Homo sapiens: one gene and its partners. The protein of the gene in region 1 interacts with the protein of each later gene in a biochemical or structural test. Each region holds a gene or a part of one and is shown in the gene's direction. Other genes may lie near its edges. The genes, in order: HDLBP, XPOT and CTCF.

Evidence for each region.
Region 2: the proteins of HDLBP (region 1) and XPOT form a complex in vitro, tested with the Homo sapiens proteins (one study listed by BioGRID).
Region 3: the proteins of HDLBP (region 1) and CTCF form a complex in vitro, tested with the Homo sapiens proteins (one study listed by BioGRID).

The regions. Positions count from the first base shown.
Region 1 is NC_000002.12:241,249,639-241,256,745, reverse strand, and holds part of HDLBP (vigilin), read left to right. Parts: coding exon 1-146; intron 147-346; coding exon 347-562; intron 563-1,165; coding exon 1,166-1,372; intron 1,373-1,587; coding exon 1,588-1,695; intron 1,696-3,248; coding exon 3,249-3,353; intron 3,354-3,710; coding exon 3,711-3,789; intron 3,790-6,765; coding exon 6,766-6,905; intron 6,906-7,107. UniProt on the Homo sapiens protein: Appears to play a role in cell sterol metabolism. It may function to protect cells from over-accumulation of cholesterol.
Region 2 is NC_000012.12:64,428,300-64,435,406, forward strand, and holds part of XPOT (exportin-T), read left to right. Parts: intron 1-1,749; coding exon 1,750-1,988; intron 1,989-3,238; coding exon 3,239-3,524; intron 3,525-5,114; coding exon 5,115-5,304; intron 5,305-6,207; coding exon 6,208-6,324; intron 6,325-6,494; coding exon 6,495-6,610; intron 6,611-7,107. UniProt on the Homo sapiens protein: Mediates the nuclear export of aminoacylated tRNAs. In the nucleus binds to tRNA and to the GTPase Ran in its active GTP-bound form. Docking of this trimeric complex to the nuclear pore complex (NPC) is mediated through binding to nucleoporins.
Region 3 is NC_000016.10:67,558,275-67,565,632, forward strand, and holds the start of CTCF (transcriptional repressor CTCF), read left to right. Parts: upstream 1-4,251; 5' UTR 4,252-4,450; intron 4,451-5,020; exon of another isoform or gene 5,021-5,176; intron 5,177-7,358.

The DNA.
Region 1 (7,107 bases):
AGAAACTGCAAGACTTGGAGCTAAAAACTGCAACCAAAATCCAGATCCCACGCCCAGATGACCCCAGCAATCAGATCAAGATCACTGGCACCAAAGAGGGCATCGAGAAAGCTCGCCATGAAGTCTTACTCATCTCTGCCGAGCAGGTGAGGCCTGTGTGAGTGCCTCGTGCCCCTGCCTACCTGCTTGTGCAGACCTCACTCCCTCATGGGTTGCCGTGTCCAGTGTGGACTTCAAGGCATAATGTGGTGGGGGTGGAGGGCTTGACTCCAACTCTAAAAAGCCCTGTCTGTCCCCAGTTTGTTTTCAAAGGCCTGTTCTCATCAGATCATCCCTTCCTTTCCAGGACAAACGTGCTGTGGAGAGGCTAGAAGTAGAAAAGGCATTCCACCCCTTCATCGCTGGGCCGTATAATAGACTGGTTGGCGAGATCATGCAGGAGACAGGCACGCGCATCAACATCCCCCCACCCAGCGTGAACCGGACAGAGATTGTCTTCACTGGAGAGAAGGAACAGTTGGCTCAGGCTGTGGCTCGCATCAAGAAGATTTATGAGGAGAAGGTACACGATTTAGAGGAGGCAAATCCCCATGGGCAGGAATAGAAATGAGGATTTGGGTCTGGAGATTCAGTTAAGGCCTGGTTCTGCCCCTTATCTTTTTGTCCTTGATGAAGATGCTTATTGTCTCTACACTTGAGTGACCCGGGTGAGATCGGTGCCCGCCCCCCCTTGCTGTTGAGCATCTGCCTGGCAGTTGTCCTTGCCGTCCTGGGCCTCTGACTGTGCTGACAGGCTGCCAGCTGGGCTGCCCCGGGTCAGATGCACATCCCGGACTTGTTCACGTCTTAGATTAAGCTGTTAGCTCAGCTTAGTGAACTTTGAGGTCTGAAACGTGTTCCTTAATTGAGGGAAAGGATTGGGTGTTTTGCAGTGTTCAAGGACGAAGTTATCAGCCGGCGGGTGACTAGACTGAGGGGAAAAATCCAGTCCTTGAACAGTGAAGTTTCTGGGGATTGGCTAGTCCTGATCACTTGTTGTTCACTTCTTGGGATCAGCATCTATAGTCTGGGCCGCTTTGGCTTGCTTTCTGCAGCAGTGGCCATGCCCACCTGCCCGCTTCCCACACCTTTCCCTTTGACTGCCCCTTATGGTGCTCTTATTTAGAAAAAGAAGACTACAACCATTGCAGTGGAAGTGAAGAAATCCCAACACAAGTATGTCATTGGGCCCAAGGGCAATTCATTGCAGGAGATCCTTGAGAGAACTGGAGTTTCCGTTGAGATCCCACCCTCAGACAGCATCTCTGAGACTGTAATACTTCGAGGCGAACCTGAAAAGTTAGGTCAGGCGTTGACTGAAGTCTATGCCAAGGTAACTGCCTCCGAGCATGAAGTGTGTCTCCTTTGAGTGGAGTCCGCGGGGCCTTCATGGATGAGCTCTCGATTTGTAAATCCTGGGGCCTGGACACAGTGCAGGTGCCCAGGTTTGGGGAGAGCGTGCCTCTGAGCCCCAGGTGAGCAGCCTGGCTTTCACTGTGACACGACCTTGAGCTCTGCAAACCCATGGCTGTTCTCCCATTTTCTTAGGCCAATAGCTTCACCGTCTCCTCTGTCGCCGCCCCTTCCTGGCTTCACCGTTTCATCATTGGCAAGAAAGGGCAGAACCTGGCCAAAATCACTCAGCAGATGCCAAAGGTAAGGACACGTTTTTCACCTGTTGTATTGAATTTGTCTTGTTTTCTGTCTTTCTGTTTCTGATATTGCTTTGTTGACCTTTGTACTGTGGATGCCCTTGAAAACTGGTGTATTTTTCTGAATTAACTGGCCTGTTTGACATGGTCAACTTCCGTGTTAGCTTAAAGAACAGCAGAATAAATGTCTGTAGATGTCTGTACCATCCTTCTGGCCTTTAACCAGAGAGGATTGTATGTTCTTAGGTTTCATAAGTATCTTAAGAAACATGTCATTTAGTAATTATGGTGAAATAACTTCATGATACTTTGGCGGGCCGGGTGCGGTGGCTCATGAGGTCAGGAGATCGAGACCATCCTGGCTAACATGGTGAAACCCCGACTCTACTAAAAATACAAAAAATTAGCCGGGCTTGGTGGCGGGCACCTGTGGTCCCAGCTGCTTGGGAGGCTGAGGCAGGAGAATGGCGTGAACCCGGGAGGTGGAGCTTGCAGTGAGCCGAGATGGCACCACTGCATTCCAGCCTTGGCGACAGAGCGAGACTCTGTCTCAAAAAAAAAAAAAAAATACTTTGAAGAGCAGAACTTGTATACAAATTGTATTAAGTGTGAATTTAAAGCGTTCTCAGTTTACCAAAGGAGATTGTAGCCCCCAGGAAACATGAACAAAAAAGAAATACCAGAGAATCCAACCATCATATTTAATTCCTGTTTTATTTAAACTTTGTTTCCAATTAATGTTACAGTCCTTTTTAAAAATTAAATTTTTTTTATTTTATTCCTTTTTTTTAGTGACAAAGCCTCACTCTGTCACCCAGGCTGGGGTGCAGTAGCGCAGTCATAGCTCACTGCAGCCTTGAACTCATGGGTCAAGTGATCCGCTCGTCTCAGCTTCCCAAGTAGCTGGCACTACAGGCGCCCCAGGCTAGTTTTCGTGGAGGCAGAGTCTTACTAGTTGCCCAGGTTGATCTCGAACTCGTGGGATCAAGTAGTCCTCCTACCTCAGCCTCCCAAAATATTGAGGTTATGGGTGTGAGTCACTGTGCCCAGCCCCTTTTACTTTGTATAGCTTCATATAAGGACCAGTCTGCCTTCCTTAACTCCTTACCTGGAGGATAATAAACCAGGAACTCTGGCAGCCTTGTCTATGTCAAGCAAGTTACTTTACCACCTTGGTACAGCTATACGAGTTTTAAAATTCCATCCGTGCTCTGTCTCATTCTTTATGCAACTCAAGAGGACCAGGCCTTGTAAAAGTTCAGATGGTGGAGGAGCATGTCGCATGTCGCATGCTTTATGTTAGTGGCTTCTGTGGGGCAAACGGTGTCCTTAGTGAGAGGCAGGATTATTCGGCCACAGTATTTAGTTTCCTGACTATGGCTCCCTAACCCTCCCTTTCAACTTTGTTTGATGGCTGTGGATATGTCCCTCCCTCCCTCACATCTATGTGAAGCAGTTTGGGATCAGAAGCCGCTCCGAAGAGAGCTCCCACTGGGAGCTCAGGGGCTGCAGCTGTGCCATTCTGTTTTAGCTATCTCTTTGGTTTTGGTGTGGTAGGTTCACATCGAGTTCACAGAGGGCGAAGACAAGATCACCCTGGAGGGCCCTACAGAGGATGTCAATGTGGCCCAGGAACAGATAGAAGGCATGGTCAAAGATTTGGTAAGGTACCCCTTGGAATGTTGTGTGTGCTGGTGACAAGGGAGGCTCTGAGTTGGGCATGGGCGGTCATCTCTCGATGACATCCCACATGTCCGGGCACAGACACCCAGGGCATCCTAGCTGGGTGAGTAATAGGTTCTGAAACAACCAGAAGCTGGTCGAAGTCCTGGAATAATCGTGGGTGGAGGAAACTTCATCTTGAAGAAGGCATCTTTCAGGGGAGATGCAGGGGCAGTCTCCAACAATTCCTGACAGCTGAGTGGTCAGAAAAGGCAACCGTGGAGACTGCTGGGTTTTGGTTCAGCTCATTGGCCAAGTAACCAGGCGCATCCATGGACCTCTGTGCTCCTCCTGCAGATTAACCGGATGGACTATGTGGAGATCAACATCGACCACAAGTTCCACAGGCACCTCATTGGGAAGAGCGGTGCCAACAGTGAGTGAGGCTGTCTGTTGCGGTGGGGCCAGTGTGCCCTGAGACCCTTGTGGGGGGTGTCAGCTGTGAGAACTGTGACGTCCGTGCAGACAGTCCAGGCCCATTGCTGCCTGTAATGGGAGTTACAGACTTTACATCCTCCTGCCTGCTGGAAGAGGCCACTTTTCCTTTTCCCTTTGGTGCAGTGGTTGGATTAGAGCTGCTTGGCCAGTGGGTGAATTGTCACTTTTGGAAATCCATCTAAGCCCTCCCCAAATAACCCACAGAGGCCATGTTGAAGGCATGCCCAAGGGCAGCATTCTCTATATTTCCGTCAGACCTGCTAGGTTAGCCAATCAGTGTTGGTAGTACTCATGCCTTCTGAACGTGGAAACTGCTGATCTGGAACTCACTGAAGAGTAAAAACATTCTAGATTTGTGCCCAAGTAAAACAACATGGGGAGGGATACTTTTTTGAGACAGGGTCTCACTCTGTCACCCAGGCTGGAGTGCAGTGGCGTGATCTCAGCTCACTACAACCTCTGCCTACCGGGCTCAAGCAATTCTCCAGCTTCAGCCTCCTGAGTAGCTGGGACTACAGGTGCATGCCACCACAGCCAATTAATTTTTGTATTTTTAGAAGAGACGGGGTTTCACCATGTTGGCCAGGCTTGTCTCAAATTCCTGGGCTCAGGTGATCTGCCCACCTTGGCCTCCCAAGGTGCTGGGATTAAAAGTGTGAGCCACCACACCCAGCAGGGGGATTCTGTTGAAGAGGCAGTGATATGTCAGCCAAGGTCGCTATATGCCTCACCTGTGCCAGGTTGTAGGTGTAGCACAGTTACAGGACACTGTTGGAAGTATGTCATGTGGGCCAAGGTCGCTGTGTGCCTCACCTGTGCCAGGTTGCAGGTGTAGCACAGTTACAGGATGCTGTTAGAAGTGTGTCGTGGGCATTCTGCTGCAGGTCCAAGGATGTTTTGTGTTGTTTGTTTGTTTTTTGGGACGGAGTCTCGCTCTGTCACCAGGCTGGAGTGCAGTGGCGTGATCTCAGTTCACTGCAACGTCCACCTCCCAGGTTCAAGCGATTCTCCTGCCTCAGCCTCCCAAGTAGCTGGGATTACAGGCGTGCACCACCACACCCAGCTAATTTTTTTGTATTTTTAGTAGAGATGGAATTTCACCATGTTGTCTAGGCTGGTGTCAAACTGCTGACCTTAGTTGATCTGCCCACCTCGGCCTCCCAAAGTGCTGGGATTACAGGCATGAGCCACTGTGCCCAACCAAGAATGTTTTTTTACACCTCTTTGTTTAACTGTATGGCTATACTCACACACTCGCGTGTTCTGAAAACAAGTGCACACGTCGCGTGTGTTACCTTTGGGTGGAAGGTGAGAAGGCAAGCACGTCCTCCATTCCTGGATAGTTCAGTGGATGAAGGAGCCTTTCCCAGGTAGTGGGACACCGACCTGCATAACATGACTGACGTCCGTGTATCCGTTTTTGTTATGAGTAAACATAGCCTTGGCAGCTGTGCTGTGGCCTGTGCAATGGTGAGCTCTCTGGTGTCAGTCTTATGTTTTGTGGGCATTTTACGTGACAGCGACGAGAGTCTGTAGGCACAAAGTGACCTTTTTGCGCACTACTTGAACCACACATACACCATAAACTTGCTTTTACGGTTTTGTTTTGGTTTTGGTTAACTGTAGCGTTTGTTTAGGCCTGACACGGTGGCTCTTGCCTGTAATCCCAGCATTTTGGGAGACCAAGGCAGGAGGATCACTTGAGCCCAGGAGTTCGAGATGAGCCTGGGCAACATAGTGAGACCCCTGTCTCTACAAAAAAGAAAAATTTAGCCAGGCCTGTGGTCCCCGCTGCTCTGGAGGCTGAGGCAGGAATATCACTTGAGCCCAGGAAGTCAAGGCTGCAGTGAGCTGTGATTGTATCGTGCCACTGCATTTTAGCCTGGGTGACAGAGCAAGACCCTGTCTCAAAACACATATATATGGAAGTACAGTAGTGTAAATCTAACATTAATTTCTGGTTTCTGCCCCCGAGAAATTGCAGAATGTAGCTTAGTCAGTCATGTCTGTTCTGTTTTCTTCTCATGCAGTTCCTAACTCTTGTCTTCTTTCGTAATCTAAAAAAACCTGCTGCCCAGCTCCCATGTCCTCTGCTTCTCTTGTCTTGTGTTGCTTCACCTGGCACAGCTGCATGTCCATGTTCCCCCCTCAGTGCATCGCCTCGTTGCTGCCTCTGCGTGTGCATGTGTTTGGGATGGACGCACAAAAAGCCCTCCTCGTGGTCCTTCCAGCAAGCTGGGCTTCCCTTTACTGCACAGTGGGCAAGATTCCTGCCTTGTTTCCTGATGATACGGCTTCTCCAGAGTTTGGGGGGCCTGGAACTCTTAACTTGGGGGTACTGGGTTCTATCCAGAGAGGTTGACAGCAGGAGGGTTTGCAACAGCACTTGTCTTGCAGACACAGTGAAGTGCTCAGTGTGAATCTGAGCCAACAGTAGATGGGGTCTCTGGGCAGCAGCATGGGCCCCACAAGGCTCTTAGGCGTCAGTGAGTGCTTTTGTGTGGAGTTAATGTGTGTGGTTTTTTTAACTTGAGAATAGTAGTTCCCAAACTTACTGCACATTAGAAACACCTGGAATCCTTCAACTATTCTGAAGCCCTGGCCAATACCCCAGACGAGCTAAATCCCAGACTGAGTGGCCCCAACCGTCAGTTATTTGAAGGTCTCGGGGCATTTCCAGCTTCTGGTCCAGGCTGAGAGCCTGTCCTCCAGAACCCTTGTGATCCAGGTGAAGATCATAACTGGCCCCCATTCTAGACAATGGAGATTTTTGTTTGGGAAGCTAAGCATCGTTTTTGGTGATGGGAATCACAGATAAGGTTATTTAGCGCTTTAGCGCTGTCCTGCCCAGTTATGTCATTGGCAGAATGTTGTTGGTCTGTGTCCTAAATGTGTTTCCTTTTGTGTTCCTAAGTAAACAGAATCAAAGACCAGTACAAGGTGTCCGTGCGCATCCCTCCTGACAGTGAGAAGAGCAATTTGATCCGCATCGAGGGGGACCCACAGGGCGTGCAGCAGGCCAAGCGAGAGCTGCTGGAGCTTGCATCTCGCATGGTAAGTGCCATGGCTGGGCCCTCTAGAAAGGCACTGGCCTTGCGTCTCTTGGCCCCCTCTAAGGAGTAGCGTGTTGTGGTGTGCGGCCTTAGAGAATGGAAGTCGACAAATCCCACGTTGCACTGGAACCGGATTGGACTCCCTGGGGCCACATTTCCTTTATCCTCCCCAGGTCACCTGCACGTCTTGTTCTCCATGGCTG
Region 2 (7,107 bases), on another chromosome or scaffold:
ATCAAGAGTTGACAGATCAATTTGGCAGCATGGGGTATATTGTTAAAATGTTGAAGCATTTTATGAAGAAGAAAAAATTCATTAAAGATGAGCTTGCTGTTAAAATGAAAAGTATATTAAAAATTTTAAAAACCAAAAGAAAATAAAAATTTAAAAAATTCAACTTCTAAATTATTCTGTTTAATCCTATAATTGTATTAGCCATTCTTAGCAGCTGCTACTGTTAGATCGAAGGTTTTCCCTGTCATTTCAGGCTTAGGGTAAAAAAAAAAATTAAGTGCTAGTCGATCTGAATATTTTGGTGTTGGGATTGGGCCATAATCCCAAGTGTTAAAATCCTGAAATCCTAAAAACCACAATTCTAAAAGATCAAAATCTTAAAAATATAATCCTGGAAAAAGTAATTTTAAAAAATTATTTGAAAGATATTACTTTACATTTTTAAAAGGGAATGTATTTGAGAAACATGTAAAAACATGACAGCACTTCATAGGCCACTTTACACAATAAAATAGGCAATAATAACATGCTTTTGCAAGCATAAACAGTTATAAAAATGACAGTTACATGTGTAAAACAGGAGCAGACAAACTGTATTCATAAATCAGAAAGCAAAATGTGTAAGTGCATGTCACTATGGTTAGTAGTTGTGTGCCACTCTGCTTTATAACTGCGCTCATCTGAAATAACCATGACAGACAACCTAAGTCTTGAGGAAATTGATAAAAAACGGCAATGGGTCACTACAACATATGCAGTCACCCAAAGAACTGAGATCACAAGAAATTTTATGTTTCACAGATGCAGATGTACAGAAAGGACCTTTCTTGTGTACATGCAGTGTTTACACACACAGTTAATGCTGTGTGTAATGTACTTTTGCAGAGTCAAATTTCTGATGTTCAAGGCCGCAGAAGAAAAGTCTGTCCACCTTTCAGAGAGAGACCAATTTGCCTTATGTATTTGTTCTCTCAGAGCCCCTGGTCAATTGGATGGTGCCCGCCAACACTGAGGGCAGGTCTTCCCCACATAGTCTACTTGGACTGACTAATCTTTCCTGGAAACACCCTTACAGACACATGCAAAATAATGCTTTACTGTGTGTTGTTACTTAATTATTTAAAAGAAGTATAGCACTCTAGTACTTTTTTTTTTTTTTTTGAGACAGAGTCTTGGCTCTGTCACCCAGGCTGGAGTGCAGTGGCATGGTCTTGACTCACTACAACTCTACCTCTCAGGTTCAAGCAGTTCTCCTGCCTCAGCCTCCCGCGTAGCTGGGACTACAGGTGCGCCACCACACCCAGCTAATTTTTGTATTTTTAGTAGAGACAGGGTTTCACCACGTTGACCAGGCTGGTCACGAACTCCTGACCTCAAGTGATCTGCCGGCCTCGGCCTCCCAAAGTGCTAGGATTACAGGCATGAACCACCACATGCAGCCTAGCCTCATAACAATCTTATATAAATAAGATCTTTACAAAAGAAAACAAGTTAGAAAGCTAACTTTAATAATTATCTTACATGATCATTTATAGAGTCTTGTCAGGGCTGGAATTAGAACCGTGATCTGTTGACCTCTAATTTAGTTTTCTTTTCATTCTATGGTCCTGGGAGAAAATTTGTCTTTATAAGTATTTGACATATGAGTTGGTGTGATAGATTACATTTCCTGTTCCTAATGCACTTTTTCTCATTAAATGAAGGGAACTCAAAAAATAAAAGCTTTAATAAGACTGAATTTCATTCTAGGAGAATGGCCACCAGTCCTTACTGAGCAGCGATGATCAACTTTTTATTTATGAGACAGCTGGAGTGCTGATTGTTAATAGTGAATATCCGGCAGAAAGGAAACAAGCCTTAATGAGGAATCTGTTGACTCCACTAATGGAGAAGTTTAAAATTCTGTTAGAAAAGTTGATGCTGGCACAAGATGAAGAAAGGCAAGCCTCTCTAGCAGACTGTCTTAACCATGCTGTTGGATTTGCAAGGTAAGTGTGATCACAGTTAAAATTATAAAGTGCATGTATCTACACAGACAGAACCACTTGTTTGGTGGGCACACACATTTGTGTTTCCACAGTTGGATAATCCAGAGAATTGTCTAAATCTTTGTCCTCCAAATCCAGTCAGTTAGATTTGGTTGAAGAAGGGGATAGGTTACATACCATTTACATTTTTGCCTTGACAACTGTAAATCTTTAACTCCTCTGACTTCTCTGATATAAATGGGTTGTGTGTTTAAGAGGATCAGCTGAAGTGTTAATATACCAAATATATATTGGGACGGGACATCTTTGGTTAGTCTTGGTTACCTTAAAGAGAAGAGCGTGAGGTTTCTCTTCAGTTGTATTGTGTCCTGAAGATCACCCAAGCAGCTGTTTTTTCCGCCTCTAGCCATACTTTTTGTTGACAAACAACAGCATGAAAGTTGTAAAGATTGCTAATTTAGAAGTTAAATTGTTCTATAATATATTTAAGAACAAGAGCTAGATATTAGAGAGGTTGTATAAAGAATTCTGAAGATGGTTTTCTAAATTTAAATGGGTGGTTTGCAGGTTACCTAGTACAGGCCTAGTCATAATAAGTGGATTTATTTTCTCTTTTCTGTCCACTTTGTCAGTAGGATTTTTCTCTTTTTTTTCTTTTTTCTTTTTTTTGTGGGGGAGACACAGTCTTGCTTTGTCACTCAGGCTGGAGTGCAGTGTTGTGATCTCAGCTCAGTGCAACCTCCGCCTCCCAGGCTCAAGCAATTCTTGTGCCTCAGCCTCCAAGTAGCTGGGATTGCAGGCATGTGCTACCACACCCAGCTAATTTTTCTATTTTTAGTAAAGACCGGTTTTGACCATGTTGTCCAGACTGGTCTTGAACTCCTGGCCTCAAGTGATTTGCCTGCCTTAGCCTCCCAAAGTGCTGGAATTAGAAGCATGAGCCACAATACCCAGCCCAGTCAATAGGATTTTAATAAAACATTTAGGTAGACTCACATTAGAAGGATTATATTAACTACATGTCATTCATTTAAGTTAATTTGAGCTCTTTTGTTCTGGAAAGATCATTGGAAGCAGTAGTTTACAAATAGCCATATTAGCTAAAGATGGAAGTAATTGTGATGTGGAAAATAAAGGTCTGGTTATTTAGTTTTGTTAATTTTGTAATTTGTTGTGCATTGCTTTTGAATACTCCATAACACTTTTAAAGAATAAAGTTGCATCTGATTGCCTGATTTTTGCTTATATAGTCGAACCAGTAAAGCTTTCAGCAACAAACAGACTGTGAAACAATGTGGCTGTTCCGAAGTTTATCTGGACTGTTTACAGACATTCTTGCCAGCCCTCAGTTGTCCCTTACAAAAGGATATTCTCAGAAGTGGAGTCCGTACTTTCCTTCATCGAATGATTATTTGCCTGGAGGAAGAAGTTCTTCCGTTCATTCCATCTGCTTCAGAACATATGCTCAAAGATTGTGAAGCAAAAGATCTCCAGGAGTTCATTCCTCTTATCAACCAGATTACGGCCAAATTCAAGGTACCGCAAACTTTCAGAGCTCTGAAAATCTCTTGAAGATCAGATGTATTTATCTTCAGACATGTTTCGGATTTTGCCCTTGGGTTTCTTTTTTTTTGCTTTTAATGAATTACTTAAGAGCCTCATGGATCATATGTATTTTTATCATCTGTGGTGTCTGGCACACTGCCTGATACATAGGTCATGCTTAATAGATGTTTGAATATAAACAGACCCTAACCGCTTTGTGTAGCAAAAGAAAACTAGTCTGCTGTTTTAGAAGAGCATATAAAACCAGTAAACTGAGTACTAAATAAGCACCATAATTCAGGTACCCAAGCAAGAGTTAAAAGTAATTCAATGTATTAAAGTCAGTTTTCTGTAGGACATTTAAGCTGGCTAATAAAAGTGGTTAATACTTACATAGTACCTCTTTTTTCCTTTTTTCTTTTTTTTTTAAATGGAGATAGTCTCACTCTGTCACATAGGCTGGAGTGCAGTGGCGCGGTCACAACTCACTGCAACCTCCACCTCCCAGGTTCAAGCGATTCTTGTGCCTCAGCCTCCTGAGTAGCTGGAACTATAGGTGCATGCACCACACCACGCTAATATTTTGTACTTTTAGTAGAGACAGCGTTTCCCCATGTTGACCAGGCTAATCTCGAACTCCTGACCTCAAGTGATCCTCCTGCCTCGGCCTCCATAAGTGCTAGGATTACAGGCATAAACCTGGCCACTTACATAGTACTTTCTATGTTCAAAATCTGTTCTAAGCATTTTTTGTACATTTACTCATTTGATCTTCATACCTACCCTAGAAGACAGGGATTATATGTTATAGTTGAGGAAACTGAGGCATGGAGAAGTGAAGGGATTTGCCCAAGAGTTCATAAAACTCAGGAGTTCATTTGTAAGCAAGTATTGAGAACATGCTATTAAACAATGTTTTTTACCTTTGTTCAAAAACAAGAAAAACCCTAAGAGTTTAATCATATAATTCATTTTTTGAGAATTTAATTTTGAAAATATTCCATGGCAATATTGTGAAATATGTCTGACTATTATTTTAACCTAAATCTTAAGCTGTAGGAAAGGGTTTAAATTTAATGATCTTGAGTCTTTTAGTAATATTTTTTAAGGTTTTTTCCCCACCTTGAAATGGAGTCTTGCTGTGTTGCCCAGGCTGGAGTGCAGTGGTATGATCTTGACTCACTGCAACCTCCACCTCTCAGGTTCAAGCAGTTCCCCTGCGTCAGCCTCCTGAGTAGCTTGGACTGGGACTACAGGCGTGCGCCACTACACCCAGCTAATTTTTGTATTTTTAGTAGAGATGGGGTTTCACCATGTTGGGCAGACTGGCCTTGAACTCCTGACCTCAGGTGACTCACCCGCCTTAGCCTCCCAAAGTGCTGGGATTACAGGTGTGAGCCACTGCGTCTGGCCTAGTAATGTTTAGGTTATATAGATTTTATCTTAAAATTGATATTTGCTAACTGAATTATGTACGCATGCATCCTAAATAGAAAAGAAAGGCTTTATGTAAAATAGTTTTTTCTAAGTTGTATGTTAATATTGTTACTAATTTCTGAAGTAATGATTGTTTATCTTCAGATACAGGTATCCCCGTTTTTACAACAGATGTTCATGCCCCTGCTTCATGCAATTTTTGAAGTGCTGCTCCGGCCAGCAGAAGAAAATGACCAGTCTGCTGCTTTAGAGAAGCAGATGTTGCGGAGGAGTTACTTTGCTTTCCTGCAAACAGTCACAGGCAGTGGGATGAGCGAAGTTATAGCAAATCAAGGTGGGAACACATGCCATATCTAATTTGTCTGCTTAAGTCTGTGTCACTGTTGTACATCTATATGACCAAGAGCAAACTGAAGTAAATACAGAAATTTTGAAGTTTGCTATCCCATGGGAAGACAGTTTATTGTTTTCAGGGTGGGAATTGATCACTTTTATGTAAAGCACCTAAAATTAATTTGTATTCTGTTCCTTTTTCTTTCTGCAATATTTTTTTAATTTGGTTCTTTAGCAATATAAATAACATGGTTACTTACCAGAATTGACCTGACAATTGAGTCTTTATGGCAAATTTGCCATTTTGAAATATAAAATAAATGGAGCTGTACAGATTTGTGTAGAGAATTCTGTATAGGAAATTTAGGGAACAAGATACCAGGGGCAAACTGATTTTTCATTGTTTTATTTTTTAATTTGATTTGATTTGTGAGATAGGGTCTCACTCTCTTGCCCAGGCTGTAGTGCAGTGGTGTCATCACGACTCATTGCAACCTCCACCTCCTGGGCTATCCTCCCATCTCTACCTCCTGAGTAGCCAGGACCATTGGCAGTTGCCACAATGCTGGGCTTATTTTTTGTAGAGATGGGATCTCACCACGTTGCCCAGGCTGGTTAAACTCCTGGGCTCAAGCAATCTTCCTCGGCCTTACAAAGGGCTGGAATTACAGACAGGAGCCACCGCGCCCAGCTGATTTTTCAGTGTTTAATGTTTAAACTTTAGGTGCCCAGTTAATAAAAATCAAGGGATTTTGGCAATTCTGTAAATGCTTTTTTCCCCCTTCATTTTTCCCATTCCACCTGTAAATGATTTTTGACTTGTTAATGTATATGAAAAGAGAACTTCAGGTTGCTTTCCTAGTTAATTTTGGAAATTGCTTAAACTAAAGGTTTTTCTCCTCAGGTGCAGAGAATGTAGAAAGAGTGTTGGTTACTGTTATCCAAGGAGCAGTTGAATATCCAGATCCAATTGCACAGAAAACATGTTTTATCATCCTCTCAAAGTTGGTAGAACTCTGGGGTAAGATAATTTTATTTCTTAACCTTCATTTCCCAAACTCTTTCATAAAACTCTTAGACATAATGGAACATAGCCCTAACAGAGAGAGAAACTGGGAGTTGGTTTTCCCTGGTGATGAATTAATTGACTTACTTTTATATATAAGATGAAAATTTGAATTCTCTTGACAGGAGGTAAAGATGGACCAGTGGGATTTGCTGATTTTGTTTATAAGCACATTGTCCCCGCATGTTTCCTAGCACCTTTAAAACAAACCTTTGACCTGGCAGATGCACAAACAGTATTGGTAAGCACCTAGGAATCTTTGTTTACCTTGTGTAGCTCATATATTCCCAATTTCTTCTTTAATGCCAGGTTGATTATATTATGTTTCATTGATTTTTTTTTTAACTTAGTGATTTCAGATCAGGGTTCTTTTTTTAAAGATTTATGATACCTTCTGGAGTTTTTATGAATTCTTATTGAATCCCAATGCTACTGCTGAATTTTACAAATTCTACTCCTTCGACTTTAACACCTGACTTTTTCTAGGACCATGAAAGGGCATATGTCACAAACATTCTTTCAAGCTTGAGTATTAGTTTCCTACTACTACTTTAATTCTAAAACTTGTACCTAGTGGTTTTCCCTAATCATTAAGAGCATGAAATGGCAACTTGATCCTCCTTGTATGATAGTTTCCCCAAATCTAATTTTCACAATACTTAATGTCAATTTCCGCTTTCTCACTTTCCCACAACCTGGTAAAAGCTAGATTTCATAATTGTAATTTACTACGTTAAA
Region 3 (7,358 bases), on another chromosome or scaffold:
TCTCAGCCCTATGTGAGAGCAGTACATAGGGTCCTTGTCTTCAGAAAGCAGGCTTCAAGGCCACTTGGACCCCATTCCTGGCTTTTGATGCCTCAGAGATCATAGAGTTATAAATATAATTAATATATAGTTGTAAATATAATCATAAATATAATTGAGGCTTTTTTCCCTCTAAATCCACTGCCTCAGGCTGGGTGTGGTGGCTTACATCTGTAATCCCAAGACTTTGGGAGGCTGAGGTGGGCGGATCTCCTGAGATCAGGAGTTCAAGACCAGCCTGGCCAACATGGCAAAACCCCGTCTCCACTAAAAATACAAAAAATTAGCCAGGAGTGGTAGTGCACACCTGTAGTCCCAGCTACTCGGGAGGCTGAGGCAGGAGAATTGCTTGAACCCAGGAAGCAGAAGTTGCAGCGAGCTGAGATCGAGCCACTGCATTCCAGCCTGGGCGACAGAGTGAGATTACATCTAAAAATAAAATAAAATAAAAAAATAAATCCACTGCTTCATATTTGCCTACATAAAAGCTTTAGAAGGTGTTCCTGTAGTCTACTCTTAAAGAAGATGGGGACAGGTGTGGTGGCTTACATCCCAGCACTTTGGAAGGCCAAGACAGGAGAATTGCTGGAGCCTGAGACCAGCCTGGGCAACACAGTGAGACCTCATCTCCACAAAAAGAAAACAAAAAACAAAAAAAAAGGAAGGTGATTTGAAGTAAAATCTTGAGAAAGTGAACTAATTAGCTTATTAATGTTACTAGAAAGAAAATCTAAAGTTTAAATGCAAGTCAGCTTTTAATTTTTTTTTTATTTTTGAGACAATGTCTTGCTCTGTCACTCAGGCTGGAATGTAGTGGTGCAATCGGGGTTCACTGCAGCTTCAACCTCCTGGGCTCAAGTGATGCTCCTGCCTCAGCCTCCCAAGTATCTGGGACTACAGGTACACACCACCATGTTCAGCTAATTTTTTGTAGAGATGGGCTTTTGCCATGTTACCCAGGCTAGTCTCAAACTCCTGGGCTCAAGTAATCCACCTACCTTGGCCTCCCAAAGTGCTGGGATTACAGGCATGAGCCACTGTGCCTGGCCTATTTTTTATTTTTTTGAGACAGGGTCTTGCTTCATCACCCAGGCTGGAGTACAGTGGCACACACATGGCTCCCTGTAGTCTCGACCTCCTGGGCTCAAGCGATCTTCCCACCTCAGCCTCCCAAGTAGCTGGGACTACAGTCATACGCCACCACACTCAGCTAATTTTTAAATTTTTTGTATAAACAAGGTCTCCCTATGTGCATGTCAGCTTTGTTGTTTCTAGTACATAAGTTCTTAAGTATACCAGGAACTATTTGGGCTGAGGAGAATGCAAAATGCAAATATTCCAGAAGCATCTGTTTGGTAATTTTCCTCTGAGTTTGTCTTTTCTTTATGTCTGAGTCCTAATGTGTACATAAGAGGCAAATGGGATAACTTGGTTTCTAGAAAAAGAAGGGTCACGTGTAAATTTTTCAAATACTTCACACATTTCTAAAATAGTATCTAATTGTATAAGGTAAGTAACTGGGATTAGACATGAGAAAACTTGCCGGGCGCGGTGAGTCGCTCCTGTAATCCCAGCACTTTGGGAGGCCGAGGCGGGCGGATCACCTGAGGTTGGGAGTTCAAGACCAGCCTGACCAACATGGAGAAACCCCATCTCTACTAAAAATACAAAATTAGTCGGGGGTGGTAGCGCATGCCTGTAATCCCAGCTACTCAGGAGGTTGAGGCAGGAGAATCGCTTGAACCCAGGAGGCAGAGGTTGTGGTGAGCTGAGATCACACCATTGCACTCCAGCCTGGGCGATAAGAGCAAAACTCCGTCTCAAAAAAAAAAAAAAGAAATGAGAAAAATTGGGTCCTGGTGTTGAGAAGCTGTACTATCCCTTTTCTTCATGTCTGTACCCAAGCAGCTGAATGTTGGAGAAAAACCAACACACTGGGCCAACTGGTTTACCTTTAACATCATGATCACAAACCTCAGATGAGTACCCAATGCCACCAAGGCAATCCTGTTAAGGACTTGCCTTCCCTCTCCCCTGCACTTGCATCTGTCTTCACCTTTGTTGCCCTTATCATGAATGGAAGCATCCCTGTTCCTCTCCAAGGTCAACCCTCCCTGTTTCCTTATATCTTCTGATGGATTTCACTCCTATATAGGTCAAGCAAGCCTCCTCTCTCCTGGATCACCCATCTTTCTTCCCCACCATATCCCTCCCAATGGCACATAAACATGCTCTGGGAACCCTACCATCTTTTATTTTATTTATTATTATTTTTTGAGATGGAGTCCCGCTTTGTTGCCCAGGCTGGAGTGCTGTGGCCCAATCTTGGCTCTCTGCAACCTCTGCCTCCCGGGTTCAAGCAATTCTCCTGCCTCAGCCTCCCCAGTAGCTTGGATTACAGGCGCGCGATACCATGCCCAACTAATTTTTGTATTTTTAGTAGAGACCGGGTTTCACCATATTGGCCAGGCTGGTCTCGAACTCCTGACCTCAGGTGATCCACCTGCCTTGGCCTCCCAAAGTGCTAGGATAACAGGCGTGAGCCACTGCGCCCGGCCCCTACTATCTTTTAAAAGATTTCTTTCTATATCTATCCCCAAACTTATCTGGTCCCTTCACAGCAAAACCTCTCTCAAATTGCATACATGTGCTGTCTCCATTTCCTCACTTTCCTGGTGACTGTTTAACCCATTCCGGTCAGGTCCACCTCCCTGATATACTCACGTGAATCAAGCCAAGGCCATCAGTGACATTCTCCAGTGACTTGCAAGGTGACCCAATCCAATAGCCACATCTCTGGCCCAAGTTTATCACACCGCTCAGCTGATGCCTCCTACCTGAAACCTTCTCTGCCCAGGGATTCCACAACTCAGCGCTAGCTTTCATGACTTCCTAGATGCTGCCTTTCAGACTCCTTCTCCATTACCCTCCCAATATTGGAGTGCCCCAGGATTTGGCCATGGAATTTCTCTTCACTCTTTCCTCCAAGCCAAGCCAGGGGTCGTAAACTGACAGCTCATCTGTGTGGTTTAATCAGCTCATGAAGTTTAAAAACATCTGATTCAGTTGCTAACATCTAAAAACTCTGGAGATTTGACATCTTAAAAATACAGATTTTTTTATTCCTTTAGGGGAAAAAAAAAGAGTATGTTATTGGGCCAGCATTCTCACAACGGAACGGTCAGATGGATGGAGAAGAAGCTGCTCCCTAGATATTGGGTCCATTTGATATCTAAGGGAAGAGTCATATTCCCTGTAAGTACCAAAAGGCTCTCATCCCAGAGCCACCAGCACCTTGCAGTCAGTTCTTGGTCAACTTGACTGCAGGTTGGGAAGGGTCCGCAGGCGCCTCCTGGGGAGGGGTGGGACTGAAGGTCTCCGCCCACAGAGAACAGCTCTCCCGCAAAGACAAGAAATGCACGTTTCCACAGAATTACACAGCGCTAAATACAGAAACTCCTTTCAGTAAAAAGCGATTGCTATGAACGTGTTAAAGCATCAAGTCTGGTTTTCCGCCACCTCTCCGGGCTGAGGTGGCCTGGGGACACCAAGAGGAGGCCCTCCCACTCTCCTCTCGCACCCGCTTTTAGGTGGCCCTCTTCTAGGGCGGAGAGATCACCAAAAGCCGCTGAGCAAGGACAGCCCTTCCAGTCGTCGCTCGCGGGCACGGAGCTGGGAGCGCGCGGGAACCGACCGGGCCTTACTCTGGGGCGGGCAGCTGTAAGACATTCGGAGGGCGGGTCGGGCCTGGCTGGGGCGGAGACTGGGCGGGGCCGGGCCCGGGAGCCTCCTCAGCCCCACTGGCTTGCCCCGCGCGCGCTTCCTCCAGCCACCCCCACTTCCCCAACCCTGTACGGGTTCAGGGGGCCGGAGACAGCAGCTAGGGAATAAGGTCAAGCGGACTGGATCCGGCACCGCCCAGGGGCGGCGGCCTCCGCCCAGGAAGCCCCACCCAGCGGGAGCCAGGACGCCGCGGCGCCGGCAGAGCCCACGAGCGACCCGGCGAGGGCGCGTGCGGCGTGACGACGCGACTCGCGGCGCGTCCCGTGACGCCATCGCGCCCGCTTTTGAAAGTTGGCGCCCGGGGCCGCCTCCCATGCTGCCCTGCGCCAACCCCTCCCCTCACCTTTCCTCCCCCGCCCTCTACTCGCCGCCCGGCCGGTCCCCCCACCCGTCCCTTCCCTTATCAGCACCCGCGGCCCCGGCAGCGCCGACGCAGGCGCACTGCACCGCGCCGCCGCCATTTTGTGTCTGAGCCTGTGGAGCGATTAAACCGTGCGCGGAGCTGCTTCTTTGGCGGCAGCGGCGGCGGCGGTGGCCGGTGCGGACGCGCGGAGCTCGCCGGAGACGCCGGGTGGCCGGAGCCGTGGAGCGGCGGCGGAGCGGGCGCCGCGGGGGGTGTGGCGCGGAGGTAAGGGGGCCCGGGGTGGAGGAGGTTTCGCGGGCCGCCTCTAGGTGTCACGATGGGGCCGCTCCGGTCGGCGCTGGCTGCAGCCCGGCGCCAGCGCCGCCGCCGGGGGGTGTTTGTCTCCCTCTACCGTCCCTGCTGCGGCGCGGCCGCCGCCATTGCCCGTCGCCGCCGTGGCCCGGCCGCCCCCCCCACCCCCACGCCCGCCCGCCCGCCCGCCCGCTAGGCCTCCCTCCTGGCAGCGCGCTAGGCCTCGGGCGGCGGCAGAGGCAGAGGCCCGCGCGCCCGGCGACTCCATTTTCCTTCCTTTGTCTGCCCTCGAGGCCGGTTCTTGGCCGGCCGATCGCCCGGCCGCGGCCCGCCCTCTGTCCTGTGTCCTCCGCCCCTCCCGCGGCGGGTGGCCCCAGCTGAGACACTATCTCCGCGTCCCGGCTTCGGCGCCCGCCTAGCTTAAGGGTTCGGACCGACTGCCGCCGCGCGCTAAGCCAGGTCCCGGTGCCGTATGGGTGTCGGGCCCTGGCCGTCGCGTCTCGGGCTGCCCCTCCTCCAGCCAGCCCCGTCCCCGGAACCTACCCTGCCGGCCTGCGTGCCTTCCCAGCTGCTTGGCTGCTCGGCGGTCGCTCCCAGTCCGCGCGTCGCCGCCGCTGGTCTCCGTCTCCGCCGAGTGGCGCAGGCGGCGCTGCAGCGGCTGCGAGCAGAGGGACCCCAGAGCTGCCGAGAGCTCCCTCTGCAAGGCTGGCTGAGCTGCTCGCACCTCTACGCTGCCTGAGCGGGCGGGGGGACGCGCGCTCGCCGCCCCCGCTGCGCCCCCAAACTCGCGCCCGGGTTCCTGGCCGGACCCGACCGGTGCGGCCCCCCCACGGTGGGCGGAAAAGATGCGAGTTCCGCACCAAGTAGTTTTTATCCAGCCGGGTTCGGACTCCCCAGCCGAGTGATAGCAGCCTGACTTTGTGCGCTCAGAGATCTCAAAGGGACTGAAACTTAAATTTCATTCTGATCTCAAGTGACGTGACAAATTTCTGAATTTGGGAGTATGGGCTAAGTCCCTTGAGTTTCCCTCCCGCTTTAAAATGTCCTCACACTAACTTAGTACCTGATGCTCTAGGGCTAGGTGAAGGCGGTTCTGCCCCAGGATTGTGCAACTCGATCTAGAGCGCCAGTAGGGCAGAATGAGTTTATTCTTGACTCGACTGGTAATTTGCCCATGCGATGAAATATGAGGGTTGATGTTGTAATTGAATCCTGGGTCACTTGCTGCAGATGGTTTATAAATATCTACGCCTAATGTAACTACTGTTTAGTAGGAGACTTCCTGTAGCCCCGAGTTCAGCGTTAAGTAAACATTCGCATACGTAGTCTTCATACTTTGAGTTTCGATCAACTAGGAAAGTTAAAAACCAAGTCCTCATAGGTGGGAAAGGAAGTTAAACAAGGCATATATTTAAATTTATTCGGTCCTTAAGTTTTCTTTCTTCACTAAAAAGCATCCCGTTGAATTGCGGGAGTCTTTTGCTTTTCCGTAAATATTCTAGTGCCTTAATATAGTTCATTGCAGCAGTTAATGTATCAGTTCGGGTTGTTTTGGAGAGAAGAAAGTCTGGATTAACCTGTTTTTAGGAAGGAAGCTATGTTAAGTTTATGAAGAAATTAAACAGCCTGGTCCTAACCAAAGTTGTCCAGTCCACTGTATGTAATCTCAATGTGTAGCTCCTCACTGCAGTCCTCTTCGTAGGCACGCTTTCTATGTCTCCTTTTGGAACCCTGCAAAATATTCCTGCCACCCCTCTTCCTCAATAAAATTGCATAGAGTAACTAAATGCAGTAGCGTTGATTGATAGTTAGACTTGGGAATAGAATCACCTTTAATTATCTAATATGTTAGTCCAATTGTGTAATTTATTGCATTCTTTTGTGACTTTGTTTTCCTTTTGAAATTGTGGTTAAGTAGCATGTTTTATTTATTTAAATAAGCTCAACATTGAGTTAAAAATTAAAATACAGCAGGTGTATAATCGAGCCAGGAGTAAAGCTTGTTTTCCCGGGTTAGTACTGTGCTCCATAGACCATATTTTGCTTCTTGGTTTGGTTGTTTCATATGCAGTCATCAGCTTCTTGGGTTTATACGTCATTTATGCTGTTTTAGTGGAATAGACCTTTTCCACACAGTTGCTATCCTTTGAAATTCCCATATGCCAGGAATCATGCTTTGTTTTGTTTTTATTAAAAAACAATCTACGGAGAGAATAAATTGAGGATGAATTGATATGTTAGGGTAACCCAGACCTTTTTTTTTTTTTGAGACGGAGTCTCGTTCTGTCCCCTAGGCTGGAGTGGCAGTGGTGCGATCTCGGCTCACTGCAACCTCTGCCTCCCGGATTCAAGCAATTCTCCTGTCTCTGCCTCCCAAGTAGCAGGAATTACAGGCCCGTGCCACCACGCCCGGCTAATTTTTGTATTTTTAGTAGAGACGGGTTTTCACGATGTTGGCCAGGCTGGTCTCGAACTCCTGACCTCAGGTGATCCACCCGCCTCAGCCTCCCAGAGTGCTGGGATTACAGGCGTGAGCCATCTCGCCAGGCCAGGACCTGTTATTTAAATTAGTGATAGGAGGATGATTAAAACAGGAATGTTTGCCTGCATAAGAAAATACTGCCTATTTAAGAGTAGTTGTGGCTGGGAGCGGTGGCTCACGCCTGTAATCCCAGCACTTTGGGTGACCAAGGCGGGAGAATCACGAGGTCAGGAGATTGAGACCATCCTGACTAACACAGTGAAACCCTGTCTCTACTAAAAATACAAAAAATTAGCCAGGCATGGTGGCACACGCCGTAGTCCTGGCTACTAGGGAGGCTGAGACAGGAGAACCGCTCGAACCTAGAAGGTGGAGGTTGCAGTGAGCCGAGATTGTGCT